2 separate regions of the Homo sapiens genome follow, and region 1 is linked to region 2. A link means that fine-mapping ties the variant in region 2 to the expression of a gene that starts in the linked region. Tissue or cell type: left ventricle. Region 2 holds a variant in brackets; the other region holds the start of a gene. All regions are shown on one strand. Distances are from middle to middle. Region 1 holds the start of EXTL3 (exostosin like glycosyltransferase 3). Region 2 has its middle 70 kb from the start of EXTL3-AS1.

Evidence for each region.
Region 1: EXTL3 starts here. The variant in region 2 is fine-mapped to the expression of EXTL3 in left ventricle (GTEx, PIP above 0.99). The same link has a PIP of 0.9 or more in atrial appendage.

Annotation. Positions count from the first base shown.
Region 1 is chr8:28,699,783-28,702,688 of GRCh38, forward strand. It overlaps EXTL3 (exostosin like glycosyltransferase 3), which reads left to right and starts at 1,719. Exons shown (of 7, transcript NM_001440.4): 1 at 1,719-1,877. It overlaps EXTL3-AS1 (EXTL3 antisense RNA 1), which reads right to left and starts at 1,682. Exons shown (of 3, transcript NR_126027.1): 1 at 1,578-1,682; 2 at 1-261. RefSeq lists silencers at 1,458-1,637, 1,708-1,777, 1,878-2,287.
Region 2 is chr8:28,629,953-28,632,858 of GRCh38, forward strand. It overlaps a transcript of EXTL3 not described here. Among named protein-coding and RNA genes, the nearest start is that of EXTL3-AS1, 70 kb to the right of the region's middle. The variant G/A (reference allele first, on the strand shown) is at 1,599.

The sequences.
Region 1 (2,906 bases), 70 kb after region 2:
AGGTATGAGTCACGGCGCCTGGCCAGCTTCATCATCTTTAAAAGCAAGTAAGTCAAAGTTAAGGGCAGCAATGTGTTAAGTTACTCCAACGTAAAAGACTGAGTCGAACAGGTAGCAGGTAACTGCACGTCCTCTCTCGCCAGTGTGGAGATGAACCAAGGCCTGGTAGTTCTTCCCTGTCTTCTGTGGTGTCTCCTCCCACACTGCCAAGCCCCTGCCTGCTGTGGCCGCGTACCTTTGGAGGAGAGCCAAGTAGAGGAACTGTTAAAAAAAAAAAAAAAATTATGATACCCAGGCAACACTCACTCCATTTTCATTTCCTGCAATACTTCTGATTTTTAAACTTTGCCTCCTCCTGTCTTGACTTCAACAAATTGGTAACAGTAAGGGTTGCATATGTACACATATGATGGCGGTAAGACTTGGAAAGCATTTGTTTATAATAATCAAGAGGAAAGGAGAAGAAAAGTGAATAGGAGACGGGAGAGCAAGAGAAAGAGGATAGGAAAAGGAGGATCCGAGTCGGGACTAGTTTGGGGGTGGAGAGATGAAGAGTGTGCTCTAGGAAACAGGTTGCTATGGGTTTTTAAAGGTTTGTTTTGCAAACGTTATCCTTAGCCCAAGCTGTCCCCCGTGGGCATCAGTCTTCAGCATTTTCTCAGCCTCCTTGCTGGAGCACTGGGCCTGGGCTCCAGCAGAAAGGGCGAGTGGATAAGGTCGGCAGCTGCGAGCCTGTCTCTGGGGTGCAGTTCTTCTTAAGGCAGCCGACCACCCAAGCGCAGGGCCAGGAGCCAGCTCTACCCGGCTTCTCCAGGTCCTGTGTGTTTGGGGTTCCCTGGCGAGGAAACCCTGGAGTAGAAGCCCTGTGTTCTGGGTATTAAAAACATTAAAAAAAATACGTTAAGACAAATTTGATCGTAGCTCATACTGCAGTTACAGGTTTTAAAAGCTGGTTTCTAAGTTAAGCAGGTGACCAGGTAGGGTGCTTGCTCCCACCCCCATCCCCTGTTCCATTATCCAAGGGGTCTTATCCTGACTTCTCAAGTGTGGAAACACACAGTCACGTGTTCCTTGGGACTGTGGAAAACGTGCACTTTGGGGCTCACAGGGGCTGGCTTTTCAGCATTGACACGGTGTTCTTCTTTCCTGTCTTGTTTTGGTGATCATCCCACACGACTAGATTAACCTGTTGTTTTTGCAAAGCCCCAGGATTTTCCTAAGCGTCCAAGCCGCCCGGCCTTGTCTTTGTTATGAAATAGTCAAAGGGCTTCAAAACTGCAGGCAGTTGCCGCGCACGGCGCCCGTCCTTGGAGGCCTTTTCTCTGAGAATGGAGTTTTAGATTCAGGGATTTATGACTTGACTTTCCCGGGGCCGGCGCCCCTGCGGAAGCGGCGGTGGCTCGGGAGTCAGACCCGGTTCCCACGCCGCCGGGAGCATCCTCCCCGCCATCTGCGGTCGGGTCTTCTCGACAGGGCCCGGCGGCCTTTGCAGGACGCGAGTTGGGGGGCTCCGAAGGCGGCCGGCGCGCCCCCCCGCGCCTCCCACAATCCCCGGCGCCCGGCCCCGCGCCCCTGACCCGGGTGTCACCGCGGAGCTGCGGGAGGCCTCGGCGGTCTTCGGACGCGGTCGGGAAAGTGGCGAGCGCGCGCCCGCGTCCGCGCCCCCGCTCGCGAACGCCGGCTTCGGCCATTTCCGGCGCGGCGCCCTTCGGCAAGTTCCGCAGTCGCCTGTCGGAAATGGCTGCCGGCCGGCAGGGGGAGCGGCGGATCAGGCGCGGCCTGGAAGGCGGGCGGCCGGCAGCCAGAACGGCTTCTGGGACGCCGACTTTCGCGCAGGCGGCGGCGGCGGCGGCGGCGGGTCCCTGAGCTGGAAGCCGGTAGGACTGCTGGCCGCGCGTGAGCCCGAGGAGCGGGGGCCGCGCCCGGAAGGGCTCATGGGAGGGTGCCGGGGCTGGCCCCGAGCGCTGGGGACGCGGCGGGAGGGACCGGGTCCGCCGTGCCCCGGGGAGGCTGCTGCTGCCCGGCGGCGGGAGGCATGCAGCCTCCGAGCGGAGTAGGCCTGCCCGGTGGCTCGGGGGCCCGGGGAGAGGCCGCCAGGCCCTCGGCCGGCAGCCGGGAGGGCTAACGGGTCCCTGGGCTGGGGCACCCCCTCCCCGCCCCCACACGCCCTCTCTCGTCCCAGTTTGGGCTGCTCGGGACCCGCCTCCACCTTTTTTTGGACGCTCGGCTGCAGCTGTTGGGCTTCCTCTGCTCCCTGAAGCCCTCCACCCTCTGTGACCCGCGGCGTTTCTCTGGCTGCTGGCCCGGAGCATCTTCTGTCGGCGGAGGCGCAGCTCCGGACTACCCCCACCCCTTCCCGAGCACACCTTCCCACATCTGCCCCCCGCTTCTACACGCAGTCGCCTGCTGCCCTCCCCGCTGGCTCTTTTTGCCGGGCTCGCCTCCTTTCAGGAGCCACAGTCAGAGGAGCCGCTTCCTGTCCGAGGGTCCAGGTGCTGCAGGACCCTGGCTCCCAGGCCCAGCTCCCCTAGAGCCGGCCTCGCGCTGCACGGGCTGGACCGGACAGGGGTGCGCGGGGCGTGTGTGCGCGGCGGAGCTCCGAGCCCAGCGACGGGGACAGCACCTATTCCGAGCCCCTCGGAGGCGAGCCAGGGCTGCCCGGCTGCTGATGGGTGCTGCTTTCTCTTCCCCACATTGAGCGAGAGCTTCGGCTCCTTTTATTAATAAAATCTGTTTGGCTCTCAGAAGACTTAAATTTTGTGGATTTTGCCCCTCCCCCGCCACCCGCACCACCCCACCCCCGCCCTTCCCCGCAACCTGGATTTTTCTTCCCTTTTTAAAAACTCTAAAAGCTTCATCAAGTCCTCTTGGTTCGACTCCTTTGGTGGAGGAGGAAGCGCAGAACA
Region 2 (2,906 bases):
TCCTGGGACGACATCCCAATCTTGTGGCCTCTAAGGATAAAGCCAGGTTGACTCATCACGATGATGCATAAAGGTAGATAGAGCCTCTTTTTCTTTTTTAACTGATATGGTTTGGCTATGTCCCCACCCAAATCTCATCTTGAATTGTTGCTCCCATAATCTCCATGTGTCGTGGGAGGGACCTGGTGGGAGGTAATTGATACATGGGGGCAGGTTTTTCCCATGCTGCTCTCGTGATAGTGAATAAGTCTCATGAGATCTGATCGTTTTATAAAGGGGAGTTCTCCTGCACACACACTCTTGCCTGCTGCCATGTAAGATGTGCCTTTGCTCCTCTGCCTTCTGCTGTGATTGTGAGACCTCCCCAGCCATGTGGAACTGTGAGTCCATTAAACCTCTTTTTCTTTATAAATTACCCAGTCTCGGGTATGTCTTTATTAGCAGTACTAATACATTAACCCACTAACCCACTATTTGTATCTGCTTGCTCCCAGGAGAGTTGAGTTGTAGACTACAAGATAAAACATAACTTAAAAAATAAGGCACTAGGGTAGTTTAGTAAAACAATGGCCAGCTTTGAAACCACTTATCAAACTCTGGAACCTTGGAAAAATTAACTAACCTACCAGAATGTTACGTTTCCTCATCTGTAAAATGCAGTAACAACTTTACAGAGTTGTTGGGAGAATTAGAAATCCATTAATGTTTTCATTCAGCACTTTTACTGAGTGCCACGTTAGTGGCAATACTGTGTTAGGAGCAGAACAGGTAAGGATGGGTAAGACATGGTGCCTGCCATTGAGAGGCTTATAACTGGGGCGGAGGAAGACAGACACGTAGATAGACAAGTGGGTGAGGTGTCAAAGAACTTTGCTGGAAATGCATACAGGAAAGAAAGAAGGTATATCAGGAAATGTATGCAGAAAGAAGGAAGGCATGTCAGGAATGGCATGGTGCCAGGTATATAGGAGACGCACAGTAGAGACTAGCTGTTTTTAAAATTATAAAACATAAAAGTGATCAAAGCAGTGAAGCAGAAATAAATCCCGTGGGACACCTGAGATGAGACATTTTGGCACAGAATTTGGCTTTAAGTTTCTTAGAAGCCACGACAGAAAAGGAAACAGGTCGGGTGACATCATTTTCTTATTCTAGTAAGAGAAAGTACACAGATTCAACTTTAGAGAGGACTTTTTTTTTTTTTCTGGAGCTAAATCAAGGAAGGATTATCACGTGGCCTCCCTTGAATATAATTTTGAAGCTGTGAACAGTACCATCAGTAACATTTTATGGACAGCTCTGATGGTTTTTATACCACGGCACTCTTCTTACCTTTGGTGGAAGCTATCTGGAGTTATGACTGATGTGTAAAGTGGTTTACTGTTAGAATCCTGGTGTGCTAGGATTCTGGGAGAGTCACTTTCAGGAAGTTACCTGGCGATGAGTCATCAGAAGAACCTGGAGAAGTGAGAAGACTGGAAAAGTTCTCATTGTTCTGAGCTCAGTTATTTTCTCTGTGCTACAGGGCAGAGGATCCCTTGGCATGAAATAAGAGCTAAGTGGTCCAACAGGCGTTGAAGTGTTAAAACAAGAATAGA[G/A]TAAGTCCTGTGCTAATCCTGACACAAGATAGCAGGCTCTGGGGATGATAATGCCTGCTGCTGATGGGCGGACCAGGGATTAGCAACCATCCAGGGAATATGCTTCAGATAAACTAAACAGGAGGTAGGATGATGCCATGGAAAAGGCATGGACTTTGAAGTCAGGTATATCAAGTTCAAATCCTAGGTCTGCTAGTTGCTAGTTTCACAAAGTACTTAATTTTCTGATCCTCAATGGGATATTAAGAGTTATCTTGGGCCGGGCACAGTGGCTCATGCCTGTAATCCCAGCACTTTGGGAGGCCGAGTTGGGTGGATCACAAAGTCAAGAGATCGAGACCATCCTGGCCAACATGGTGAAACCCCGTCTCTACTAAAAATACAAAAATTAGCTGGGTGTGGTGGTGCACGCCTGTAGTCCTAGCTACTTGGGAGGCTGAGGCAAGAGAATCACTTGAACCTGGGAGGCGGAGGTTGCAGTGAACCAAGATTGAGCCACTGCGCTGCACTCCGGCCTGGCGACAGAGTGAGACTCCATCCCGCCACCACCCACCAAAAAAAAAAATTTATCTTGGGCCAGGCGTGGTGGCTCACGCCTGTAATCCCAGCACTTTGGGAGGCTGAGGCAGGTGGATCACCTGAGGTCAGGAGTTCAAGACCAGCCTGACCAACATGGTGAAACCCCATCTCTACTAAAAATACAAAAATTAGCTGGGCACCTGTAATCCCAGCTACTTGGAAGGCTGAGGCAGGAGAATCGCTTAAACCCAGGAGACAGAGGTTGCAGTGAGCTGAGTTCATGCCATTGCACTCCAGCCTGGGCAACAAGAGTGAAACTTCATTTCAAAAAACAAAAGAGTTATCTCGTATTTCTTGGTTGTTTTGCCAATTAAAGTTAAGGTATATAAACAATAATAATAGTAATAATAATGAGTGCTAACAATGATTGAGACCTTAGTGCAGGCCCTCTGCTAAGTGTTTTAACTGCATTATCTCATTTATTCTTTTTTTTTTTTTTTTTTGAGAGGAGTCTTGCTGTGTTGCCCAGGCTAGAGTAGAGTGGTACGATCTCGGCTCACCACAACCTCTGTCTCCTGGGTTGAAGCGATTCTCCTGCCTCAGCCTTCGAAATAGCAGGGATTTACAGGCACGCCACCACACCCAGCTAATTTTTGTATTTTTTAGTAGAGACGGGGTTTCACCATGTTGGCCAGGCTGGTCTCGAACTCCTGACCTCAGGTGATCTGCCTGCCTCGGCCTCCCAAAGTGCTGTGATTACAGGCGTGAGCCACTATGCCCAGCCACATT